3 separate regions of the Homo sapiens genome follow, and all the other regions are linked to region 3. The links come from fine-mapping of genetic effects on gene expression. A gene starts in region 3. Each other region holds a variant in brackets. All regions are shown on one strand. Distances are between the middles of the regions.

Region 1 (4,240 bases), 24 kb before region 3:
GGCAGGAGAATTGCTTGAACCTGGGAGGCAGAGGTTGCAGTGAGCAGAGATCGAGCCATTGCACTCCAGCCTGGGTGACAAGAGCGAAACTCTGTCTAAAAAAAAAAAAAAAAAAGCTATTATCATCAGGAAGGAAACATAGGATTTGGAACTACTTAAAGCTCAACATATCTGTAGCATCTGTTCTGCTTGACAGCAGTCAGTCATCTTAAAGGTCAAGCCAGTGTATCTACAGACCACACCATGTGACCACTCTGAAGAATGACAGAATGTAGGATTTTGGAACTGAAAGGGCTCATGTCCCTGTGGTGTCACCTCTTAGTTTCATTGTATGCTTTTCTCCACAGCTTCCCAGGCATGCAGAAAACTCTACCTCCTAGCCCTTTCCTCTAAGTGAAGCCATGGCACTGGATCCAGCCAATGAAATGTGAGCAGAGGTGAGGCCCTGGAAAGCCCACCAGCACACCCTCCCCTGCCAGGAAAACCACGTGTGGAAATGGTCAAGCCACAGTAAAGAAGGAAACTAAAGCCAGAGTGGCTGTAATCCCAGCATTTTGGGAGGGCAGATCGCCCAAGGTCAGGAGTTCAAGACCAGCCTGTCCAACATGGTGAAACCCCGTCTCTACTAAAACTATAAAAAACTAGCCAGGTATGGTGGTGCATGCCTGTAATCCCAGCTACTCAGCAGGCTGAGGCAGGAGAATCATTTGAACCTGGGAAGCGGAAGTTGCTGTGAGCCGAGATCATGCCACAGCACTCCAGCCTAGGCGACAGAGTGAGATTCTGTCTCAAAAAAAAAAAGGAAACAATTCTTGTGTCACTGCCTAAAGAGCTGCCAAACCCATGGCAGATTCTGCACGGGTTAAAGTTTTAAAATAAACCTTTATGTGTTAAACCACTGAAATTTTGGAGTGTGTTAGTGAAGTGTAACCTAGGCTACCCCACCCAGCCCTTACTGGCTTTAAAGGCATTCCTATTTTCAGCAAGGTTACAGGAGCTTACAAAATGGTTTTGCTTTTAGAGGGAATTTGACCCATGTGGTGTGATGAAACCAGTTAGCTTTCAGGCAGGCCAGAACTTACAGGCTGTTTGTAACATATGTCATTTGCTTGGGTAGACAGATCTTTGAAAACATCGGGTCCATGTGCTCGCTTCAGCAGCACACATACCAAAATCGGAATGACAGAGAGAACATTAGCGTGGCCCTGAGCAAGGATGACTCACAAATTTGTGAACCATTCTATAAAACAAACAAACAAGCAAAAACTGGAACCACAGTGGCATAAGGTTGACAAAACAGAACTTTTGGTACAAAAAAGTTGGGAAACATGGATAGTTGTCCCCTTGTTTTAGGGATGAAAATAGAGACCCTGGGAGAAGCAAGGGACCTGTCCCAGGTCACATGTAAGCCTTATAAGGAGCAAGTCTCCAGGTCAGACGTCGAGGGTGAGGGGTAAAGAGCCCTCCTGCTTTAGATCAGCCTGGTCAGGCTCAACAGGCACTCAGGGATTCCAGCACCCCAAAAAAAGTTCCTCCCTGTTCTAGGGAAAATTTTAGGGAATTGAATACCCTACATGGATCTGTCCCAAATTCAGCTACAGGAAAGAAGCACAAATGAGTGAGACCAAGACAGGGAACATCTAATTTGTTTCCATACGATATTGACAGATCTTCCACCTTTTCCAGAAATGCCTAAACACTCGGTGCATACGTGAGATCTCTGGATTTTTCAATGTTGGCAATTACTTGAAAATGAAAACAAAAACTCTGTACTAATCAAACAAAATACACCTGAGGGCTGGATTAGGCCTTCAGCCCATTTTGTTACCACTTCAGCTTTCCTGTTTTCTTAACTGCAGGGACATGACC[G/A]AGGCGACAGCTATAGTCATACCACAGACACATCGCTTCCGGTAGGGTTACAAGATTTAGCTAACAAAAACATAGGATGCCCAGTTGAATTCAACTTTGGATAAACAATGGATAATTTTTTAGTATAAGTATGTATAGGCCATACATATATTGTAGAGCATAATTATGTCCAGGGAATATTATATAAGTATTATATCATATGCTACATGTATCAGTATTATATATTATACTTACATACTATTCCCTGGACATAGTTATATATATATATACACACACACACACACACACACACACACACATAAAAATATATACCTATACAAATTCAGCCTGGGACATCCTTATGATAAAAAATTATTCACTGATTATCTGAAATTCAAGTTTAACTGGTGTCTTATATATGGACCAAGACAGTTGATTAATGAGCTCTTCCTTCTTTGGCGCTAATTTATCAGGAAAACTGGAAAACAAAGGTATCTGGGTCCAGCTAGGCTCAGAACAAGTCACCAAAGCTCTGGTGTGTGAATAACTGTATGCGATGCTGTAGGAAGGACTTGATCCCACCCACAGAGTGGCTACTCTCCTGGGCAAATGGCCACTGGAACCCGCTGTCTGGTCAGGCTTGCCTGGCTTCCTTCCAGTTGGGAGGCCTTTAGGCCACAACGGGAATGCATTTTATTCTCCCTATCCCTTCTACTCACTGAGGGTCAAGCCCACTACCTATGGGTGTATCCTCTGCAGGCCGCGCTGGCTTTTGCAGTGCCCTTTCCTCTCCCTGCCATAATAGCTGCAGCAGATGCTGGTGCTCCCAGGCACAGGTGGGCTCACTTCCCTTGTCCTCCAAACACTCATCATGCCCGTGCTTCTGGTGGGGGCCGGAGCTAATGGATCTCAGCTGAGGTTGCTCCAGGCCTCCCTCCCACCCCTTGGGAGAGGGAGGCCAGCTCAGAAACCACAATCCTCCCTCCTTCCTGTAGACTTAACTATCTCACCTTGTCCGCCCTGCTCCCCGGTGGAGCTGCAGAGGATATTCCTTTCAACCGGGAAGCCAAGCAGAGATCCCAGATGCCACCACCCACCTCGATCCACCCCCATATGGTGGCATAGGTCAGTGCCATGATTGGCCAGGGTCAGAGCTGTACCACCGAACGTGCTGAAAGCCCCGCTTTGCCCAAAGAGAGTCTCCGTCTTCACTTCTCCTTTCTTCCTCTCTTCCTCCTCCTCCTTCAAAGGCACACTTGTAAGGCAACTGGGTCCTCCACCCACAGTTCAAAATGCTTACTGACTGGGTCTCACTCTGAGTTTAAAAAAAGAAAAATTCTCTTTGGGTAATTTTTCTTTTAATTGATCGAACCAATCCATAACTATGAAGGGCAAATAACTGTCCTTGCACCCCAAGCCCTGTGGGGATGATGTAGTTAGTATTAATAGTTGCTGCTGATCACTGATGTTAACCACCCCCCACCCCCAGGAGCCTTATTACAATGATTTGGACAAATTCACATGTGCTTTTACCCTGAGAGAGTGTTTTATTCACCTGGGTGGGTAATTTACAGATGAGCAATATACTTCAAGTATTACAACTAGATTTGTCTTTTCCTCCTTCACTGGAGGGCCTGAGTTCTCTAAGGCTGTTCCCTGGACAGGAGTGGACTTCAAGGTTCTCATTGCAATTGTGGATTCCTGGGAGGGAGGGAGATATCCCCTCCCAGAAGTTCTGGTTGAGAAGGTTTAAAGATGGATTAAGAATCTAAATTGTTTGAACAGACACTTCAGGGGATTCCAGATCCAGTGAGTCATAGGCGCCCCTTGGAGAAACTATGGCTGAAATGGTTTTCCTGGCATTCTATTATTTGCCTAGCAGTTTTAATAAAGTTGGGTCTTAACATTACATTTCCTCCATGGCGGCATTAGATAATTCATATCTGAGTTTAATCCGCAAGCCGTGGTCAACACACATGCATGTCATCAGCCAGGCTGAAACTTCTAGGAGGGTCTCAGCGACCCATAGGCTAGGGGCTTCTTGGAGATCCCCTGCCGGTCCTGCGCCGTGGGGTGGGAGGATGTGAATCCCATGGTCTGTAGTCACAGCTGTCCTGGGAGAGGGATCCTTGAATTTGAGTGAAATAAAATATAGCAAAGATATCTTTGAAATACCCTCACATCTTTCTGGTTTGGCCGAGAGATGAATGAGGAGGACTAACAGGCGGAGGGAAAACGCCGACTTCACGCATTTACCTCCACTAGCCTCCAGGGGGCAGCAGAGCCGGGAAGAACATTCACGCAGGCGGCTCCGGGAAACGGAAGGAGGGAAAACGCCGACTTCACGCATTTACCTCCACTAGCCTCCAGGGGGCAGCAGAGCCGGGAAGAA
Region 2 (4,240 bases), 63 kb after region 3:
CCCTGCAGCAAGAACAGGAGTCTGAGATCTGAATTCTGGAGGTGATTTGGCTTCTGCTAACTGGACACATGGGGCAGAGCAAAACTCGGAAGGCAGTAAGGAGGCACAAGCGCCCCTCCAGTGGCAGCTGCATGTGAGCACAGCAGTCATTCATTTTTTTCCGGCAACCAGACCCTGCCTTTAGGACCATGAGATAGCTTTTATATAAGAAGCAGTTCATTCCCTGTGGCTTCCTGATTCTCATTCAAAGCTAAGAAGATATGACTTGATGGCTTAGAAAGGGCCCCCCCTCCATTTCCACTTTCCTGGCCCTGATGACTCTGATTGTGTAAGACCCACTTCCATGAACATCTAGACCCTGTTAGAGACACCGAGCATTCAACTCATGATCACATCTTCACGGCAACAACAGAGCTGGACTTCAGTTATTTATGACAGTCTTTTAAAACTTAAATTTAGATGGTACTCGCTTTTAAACAAAATTCGATCTAAGGGAATGTTCAAGATAAACCAATTCTGTCCAGAAATATGAGTAATTTCAAAATAATCCAAAATAATTCAAAATCATGTTTTTCAATCAAGTATTTTAAATGGTACTTGAAAAAGAAAATAGCACTAACTTGACAGAGCCTGGTAGTGTAAAATTAGGCACTGGGCTTCCTCAAGATTTTCTATGAACATCTACATTCTGGACAATTCACCAACTAACACTGGCTTAAGTGTACTTTGGGTATTATGGTGCTGTTTGGTAGAAAGAGCTAAGTCCCTGATTTCTGCCTGATGCTTTGAGCAGCTCAAGGAATTTATTTTTGATCTCTACTGCTCTCAAGCTCAAATCTATGTTCTCATGAGTGGATTACTTCTTCTGGAGAAGCAAAGATACCATTACAGGTGATTATTTCCTCTCAAGTGAAGTTTACCTGGGTAAGTCCCCTTTATCCTTTCTAGTTTGTTTTTCTGAAGTATATGAAATGGTGTCTCTTCTAGGCCAATCACTCCGTTTTCACTTTCTACCATTACATTAAATCTTTTTTTTTTTTTTTTTTTTTTTGAGACAGAGTCCCACTCTGTCGCCCAGGCTGGACTGCAGTGGCATGATATTGGCTCATTGCAAGCTCCGCCTCCCAGGTTCACGTCATTCTCCTGCCTCAGCCTCCCGAGTAGCTGGGACTACAGGCGCCCGCCACCATGCCTGGCTAATTTTTTGCATTTTTAGAAGAGACAGGGTTTTACCGTGTTAGCCAGGATGGTCTCGATCTCATGACCTCGTGATCTGCCCGCCTCGGCCTCCCAAAGTGCTGGGATTACAGGCGTGAGCCACCGCGCCTGGCCACATTAAATCTTTACTAAATAGAAGGTTAAAGAAGCTATACTCGGAAAACAGCCAAAAAGGAAAAACTGGCTACCCCTAATAAATAAGACCACACAGCAGAAGAGCCCATTAAGAAGCCACTAAACCATTTAAGAGAAAAGGGACAATCATGGTAGCTGTTTACTACACACACCCAGTTATCAATTAGAGCACTGCAGCATCTTTTGATGATTCCCAGCAGCTCTCAATGCGCATATGAATGGCCAGGGGGTCCTGTTAAAATGCAGGTCCTGATGGTAAGACTGGGCTGGAGATGCTGATATTGCTGGTGCCCAGGGACTAGAATACGTGATCCTTCCTCTCATACTTAGTACCTCTCAGAACCCAAGACCAAAGGAAACCCTTTAAAAAAAATTGTTTGAGACCGAGTCTCACTCTGTTGCCCAGGCTGGAGTGCAATGGCACAATCTCGGCTCACTGCAACCTCTGCTTCCTGGCTTCAAGCGATTCTCCTGCGTCAGCCTCCTGAGTAGCCTACTCTACAGACATGCCCCACCACGTC[C/T]GGCTAATTTTTGTATTTTTAGTAGAGACGTTTTCTCCATGTTGCCTAGGCTGGTCTCAAATTCCTGGCCTCAAGTGATCCGCCCGCCTCGGCATCCCAAAGTGCTGAGATTACAAGTGTCAGCCACTGCCCCAGCTTAAAAAAAAAAAAAAATTACCAGTTGCTTACAACCATCCAGTTTCCAGCTGAACTGGAAAAGTGAAACTATGTAAATAGCAATTTTTAATTTTCATTCTTTTTTTATTTTTATACACAAAATTCCCCAGAACTAAAAGATTTTTTTCAGGGGTCTGTTGCCATCTACAACTGCTGCAGCAGTAAAAACTCAAACACACTTTGAATTGAAAAGCCATTTGTGTCTCCATAGACTTCCTTAAGTCAATTACACAGTCTGAGTAGTGAACACTGAATTAGAAGCAAGGTGCCGACATAAGCCGTAATATAAATAATGGAGCCTCCCTGCTCTGGGGGCTGAGTTTGTCACATCTACTTCAGGTTTGACAATATCTTCAAGCCAGTTCTTCAAGGAAAATGCTTTTCAATTTTGCCAGGGTACAAGAAAACAGATAGGATTTGGGCCTAAATGCTCTGCAAAATGCTGGATGTTTTTTTTACTATGAAAGTTTACACAAACCTTCCTTTCAAAATGTTTGAAAAATGTTGATCATGAGTCTATAGCAGGTGTCAGCAAACTTTTTATTGTAAATGTCAAACAGTATATATATTTTAGGCAAGCCATACAGTCTCTAGCAATTTGTAAAATGAATGGGCATGGCTGTGTTCCAATAAAACTTTATTTGTAAACAGTGGCACTGGTTCCTTCTCAAACTTCACTCTCACTGGAGTAAGGTGAGAAGGGAACTCAGTACTGATGCCTGGACTCCACTCAAGAAAATCTGGTTTAACTGCTCTGGGATGTGGCCTGGGCCCTGGATATTTTCAAAGATCCCAGTTAATTCTAATATGACACCGAGATTGAGAACCAGTGCTCTACAATTACCAACATATCGTCCATATACCTTGGAAGTACGAGATCCCAACAATCCCCTATATTAACTAAAACAGGCTAAATCTGACAAATAGACTGGCTAACGCTGCCAATCCCAATGTATGTATTATTTGACAAAAAGATGAAGATGAACAGTAAAATTCTTTTTTTTAACTAACGCTTACTGGAAAATAAACACAATTTCAAATCCATGCGTGTGCTTATTTATTCCCTTAATTCCTTTTCCATGTTTTCCAAAAGCATGAAATAAAAAGAACTATTAGGAAATAGGAATTTAGTTATTTATATTCAAACATTCACTATCCTTAATGAATCCCCAAGATCACTGAGCTATAAAAGAATTCCAGTAAAAGAAGAAAAAGATACAAAGGGTCAGACTCCATTTGAGGTTACTAGAATGTGAACTGATATGGTTTGGCTCTGTGTCCTCACTCAAATCTCATCTCACACCGTAATCTCCACGTGTCAAAGAAGGAACGTGGTAGGCGGTGGTGATTGGATCATGGGGGCGGTTGCCCCAATCTGTTCTCATGATATGGAGGGAGTTCTCTTGAGATCTGATGCTTTAAAAGTGTTTGGCAGTTTCCCCTGTTCTCTTTCTCCTCTCTCCTGCTGCCTTGTGAAGAAGAGAAGGTGCCTGCTTCTTCTTCGCCTTCTGACATGACTGCAAGTTTCCTGACGCCTCCCCAGCCATGCGGACCTGTGAGTTAATTAGACCTCTTTTTTTATTTATAAATTACCCAGTCTTGGGTAGTATCTTTACAGCAGTGTGAGAACAGACTAGTACATGAACTTACTGAGGTCATCAGTCACTTCAGCTACATCCACCTCAAAGAATCCACAAACAACCCATCCACGTGACAACTTGCTCATAAGAAGAAAAGGACAGTTCTATGTGTTTCTAAGTGCATGTGTAGCAATATAAACAGGATGTTAAAACTGCAATTCATGGATGGGCGCGGTGGCTCACGCCTGCAGTCCCAACATTTTGGAAGGCTGTGGTGAGTGGATCACCTGAGGTCAGGAGTTCAAGACCAGCCTGACCAACATGGTGAATCTCCGTCTCTACTAAATACAAACAATTAGCTGGGTGTGGTGGCAGGCGCCTATAATCCCAGCTACTTGGGAGGCTGAGGCAGGAGAATCGCTTGAACCCAGGAGGCAGAGGTTGCAGTGAGCTGAAATTGCACCACTGCACTCCAGCCTGGGCGACAGAGTGCGACTCCATCTAAAAAAAAAAAAAAAAAAAAAAAAAAAAAAAAAAAAAAAAATGCAATTAACCCAGAAAAAGGCATGGCAGAATGCAATTTCAAACTAAATTACTTCCTGCTCTCTTCTAACTTTAAAAAGAAAATCA
Region 3 (4,240 bases):
GAGTCCGCCTCACTTCCTCAGCTCCACAGGATCCAGACAAAGCAGTCCTGGGCTCCTGAAAGCCTTTCTCCGAAGCTAGGGGTACCGTCTTTAGGGAGTTGGCAGGTCAGTGTAGGTACCAGTTTTGCCACAGTTCTACTTACAGGAGGGCTCTGGACCTTCCCACTCCTAATTCCAGCATGCCCCCTTCCGGGAGAAGGTGGGCTGTGTTCCTTTGCACATTTGCCCCAGTTAAGGAGAAACACCAAACACATATCCACTGAATTCCAAGAGCCATCAAAAGAGCTCTTGAGCTGGGCAGAACCGCAAGCTAGAAATTCCCCAGGAAGAGAGAGACTAAGAGACTCAACTCAGGCCTGCCAAGCTCAGGAGGCCTGGATGGAAACGGATGGGTGGTGGGGGATCAGATTTTTTGTATTCCTTTAAACCACGAAGACAGCTGAGGGCAGCCTGGGGAACAGTGTTAAAGGATCTAGGAGGTTCTGCAAAGGAGTGAATTCTGGGCGCATCAGATTCTTTTCCCGCTATCAGCTCACAAGCCTTTCCGGACCCTTTTACTATCATTGCTAAATGGAACTTATTTCACCAGTTACAAGAGTCTGGAGGCCACGGAGCAAAGCTAGAAAGGCCAGGGTTCTGAGAGTTGGATACTTGTCCTCACTCAAATTTTCCTGGGCCCTGGGCAGGGCCGGGCCGGCCGAGAAGCACAGCCAGCTCGACTCAGCCGAGTGTTGGCCTTGGCTCCTTCCCTACACCTACCTACCCATTCCAACCCCCAAATGGCAAGGACCTCTAAAGCCTGCAGCCAGGAAAATCCGACCCCACCGTAGTGAGTGTGCGCACGTGGGTTTTAATTTTGTCCTGTCTCAACTCCGTTGTCTCCCTGCTCAATCTGACACGTTCCGAACCCTTCAACCTGGGAAGGCACCTGGCGATACTGACGCACAGTCCCGTCGTTTGGCTGCCCGGAGGCGCCTTCCCTGCGGGCGCGAGTGCCACTCGCGCTGGGTCCAGACTCAGCCGGCTTCTCCCGGGAGAGGAAGCCCCGGCCTGGCGGAGAGTAGGAAGGAAAGCCCCGACAGGCCCACGTCCCAAAACTTTGCCTCCAGTCCTCCCAAGTGGAGCTGCAGCTGGCACTCCGAAGTTGCCCCCGCGCCCGGCCAAACTCCCGCACCTCAGACGCTCTTACCTGGCTTGGCGAGCTGCGCCTGCAGAGCCCCGGGCTGCGGCTCGGCAGTCCAACGCAGCGCGGCGGCCGCGGCCAACTCGGCAGCAGGGCGCGGCGGCTGCGGCTGCGACGGCTGAGAGGCTGGCGGCGGCTGCGGGGCGGCGACGGCGTCCCCCGGCGGCGGGGGCCCTGGCAGAGCGCGCAGCGAGTCGGGGATGAGGCTCTCCAAGCTCTCGTTGGCCTGCTGCCGGCGCAGCGCCACCTGCGCAGCCATGACCCGCTGCCGCTCGATGATGAGGATGCACTTCTCGCAGGTGCAGTCCTTGAAGCGGCAGTAACGCTTGTGGCCCTTGAGCCAGGACAGGACGCCATGGTTGCGGCAGCGCGCGCACTTGGGCGTGCGCTGCAGGGGCGCCCGTGGCGGCTGCGACACCGGGCCGCCCATGTACAGGTAGGGGGAGCCGTAGCCGTTCATGCCCCGGGCTCCCGAATGAGTTGGCAGCCTGGCTGCGGGAGAGGGCCAGGGAGCGCTGGACGGCGGGGCTGCGAGGCCCGCTCAGGGGCGGCCTCCGGGCGACGCGGCCCTTGGTCCCGCAGCCCCGGTGGTCGTGTGTGCTCCGGGGCGGCCGGAGGTGCCGCAGTCGTCTCTCCAGCTCCCTTCGCGCTCACAGCTCGGCCTCCCAGCTCACGCCCAGCCAACGCCGACGCGGGCCTCTGCCTTGGGCGCGCAGCCGGGTCGGCACGTCCTCCTTCGCGGAGGCGCTGCGGCGGCTGCAAGGAGCCGGCGACAGCTCTGATTAAGGTCTGAGCCAGCTCTTCTGCAGCTCCCTCGTGAGCCGGCCGGACCCAACACCTCCGCCGCCCTCCCCCAACCCCTCCTCCTTCCCACCGCCACCCCCGCCCCTGGGGTCCCTGTCTCCTTGCACTCCCCGCCCCACGCCTTCCTCCTCCTTTGCGCCCCTCGGGTGCCTGCACTTCACCTTCCTTGCCACCTGCAGCCAGGCCACTCTCGCGGGGGCGCTCGCGGCCCCCTCCTCCAAGCCCTCTCCGCTACCCCAGCCCGCGGCTGGAGACTGCGGCGCTCCAGAACGCGGCGGTGCTCGCGGGGCGGAGAAGGGGAGGACCAGCGGGAGTGAGGGTGGGGGTGCCTGTAAGCGAGTGAGGTGGCCGCTCCGCTTCTCTCTCTTCTCCTCCCTCCAGTCCAGATCTGGCCGCGTTTTTCCGAGCCCAAGGCCGCTTTTATCCCGACATTTGGCCGCAGAAGCTCAGCTCCGGGAGAACTCGAACCTACGGGAGTGTTGCGGTTGCACCCCGGACCTGGGTGGAGTTTAGGATAGGGGAGTGAAGTGATGTTGGTTTAGGAAAGTTAGGCTCTTTTCGTAATTTCCTTTTAGAACGTATTTTTTTCTCTTTTGTTGCTTTAGAAGAAAATGGTTTTGGAGATCTGCCGGCCCAAGGATGACAAGCCATTTTGCAGGCGAATTTTACTTTTCTACCCTCCTGTCCATGTTTTAATATAAAACAGTATCCTGAAAGGTCAGGGACGTACGTGCTCCTGTAAAGGATTTGTTAAGCGCCGGGTATAAACTTTCAAGGGGCAGACACAGAAGCCACATTGGCGCCCCCAAAGTTACCGATATCCTCTTCCCTCGCTCCCAGCAGCTACTGGAAGCAAACGGAGGTCTTGCGCCAGCCACTCAGTTCAAATCCCCACGGATTCTGTGATTCAGTTATGGATATGGGATGGGGCCACTTTTTCACCTCCTTAACCCATAGACCCCAGTCATAGATGTCTTGGGGGAGAGGGTCCTTCACAAGATGACAGCAGAAAACTTTGTTTAGATTATTTGCGTGTTCCCATTCTCCCAGGAGTAGCGGGCTTGGCCTAGTGCAGACTATCGCTATATATGCACAAAGAAGGCCCTCCACCCTCGCACCTCCCCACTGCCCATCAGCAAACAAGCAAAAACCAAAAAACAAACAAACAAACAAAACAAGTGGATACACTGCAGGGCAGCACAATAGCTCTATGCGAAGCGGGGCAGTTCCAGAGCCTTCGGTGGATGCGCTTCTGAGAGCGTGCACCAAGCCCATCTCCTGGTGGGGAATCAAATGCTAGATGAGAGCGTAGGCAAGTCCGCTGCAATGTCCGACCCCTCATGGGCACAGAGGCCCTTGTCCCCTCGGGGAGGCCGCTTTTCTCTGTACTGCCCTGGAAGTAAGCAAGCAACCTGAAAACTTTCCTCTGGTGTTTGCCATGAATTCAAGGGAAGCACCTCCAGGCGTTCTAGCAGCCAACCCTCTGCCCAGAAGGCTGATTTGCGGAGAGGAGGGTTGAAAACCGAACCCCAGTTGTGTGTTTCCCTTGAAGCCCTTAGCTGTTCCCGTTTCATACGCGTCCGGGAGGTGGGGATCGCGGGACACTGACCTGGTAGAGTGTGGACAAGAAGCTCTAGCATTCGAGTGCTAACCCTGGGAGGCCATCCTCCAAAGCCGCGTGGGGTAGGGACCCCTCGGTCTTGCCCCTTCCCCCACCACTTTAATCCTTCCTCTAGTCTCAACCTTCTCTAGGAAAACAAGCCCTAAAATACAACTGGAAGGAATTTTGTAAGCTCTGGGGACGGGAGGCAGAGGTCGCCCCCAGCCCTGTAGGCCCGAGGCTAGGAAATGGGGAGCTGGACGCGAGTCATTTAACGTGCTGCGATATAGAGGGCCTCAAATGACACCTTAACTGAAAACTATTGCGCTGAAACCTCCGGATCTCTTGGAAACGTGGGGACCAACGACTTTTTTCAAAACCAAATTTCTTCCGATTTTCTTCAAACAGTGAAACGAGGAAGTATAAAGAACTTGAGTATGAATAAATTTTTAAAAGGAAAGCAGAAGAGCTCTGCACCAGGTTTGTGGGGGCACTTTCACTACCAAGGCGACCCCTTTTCCCCCGTCGGTCACCTAGCCACCCTATCTCGTTGCCACTCAAACAGTCTGGCATTTGGTCCCGGGGGCCCGTTTCACTCCGGTGCACATCGGGGGCTGAGATCTAAATACTCATTTGATATAGTGCAGTAATCC

Evidence for each region. PIP is the estimated chance that this variant, and not a neighbour inherited with it, causes the effect.
Region 1: its variant is fine-mapped to the expression of DMRT3 in thyroid (GTEx, PIP above 0.99).
Region 2: its variant is fine-mapped to the expression of DMRT3 in thyroid (GTEx, PIP above 0.99).

The regions. Positions count from the first base shown.
Region 1 is chr9:998,868-1,003,107 of GRCh38, reverse strand. It overlaps the pseudogene RNU6-1073P. Among named protein-coding and RNA genes, the nearest start is that of DMRT3, 24 kb to the right of the region's middle. The variant G/A (reference allele first, on the strand shown) is at 1,870.
Region 2 is chr9:911,385-915,624 of GRCh38, reverse strand. The region is part of intron 3 of DMRT1 (doublesex and mab-3 related transcription factor 1); the gene reads right to left. Among named protein-coding and RNA genes, the nearest start is that of DMRT3, 63 kb to the left of the region's middle. The variant C/T (reference allele first, on the strand shown) is at 1,875.
Region 3 is chr9:974,405-978,644 of GRCh38, reverse strand. DMRT3 (doublesex and mab-3 related transcription factor 3) reads right to left here and starts at 1,990. Exons shown (of 2, transcript NM_021240.4): 1 at 1,190-1,990. The coding sequence starts at 1,643. RefSeq lists enhancers at 1,823-2,322, 2,323-2,824, 3,357-4,240.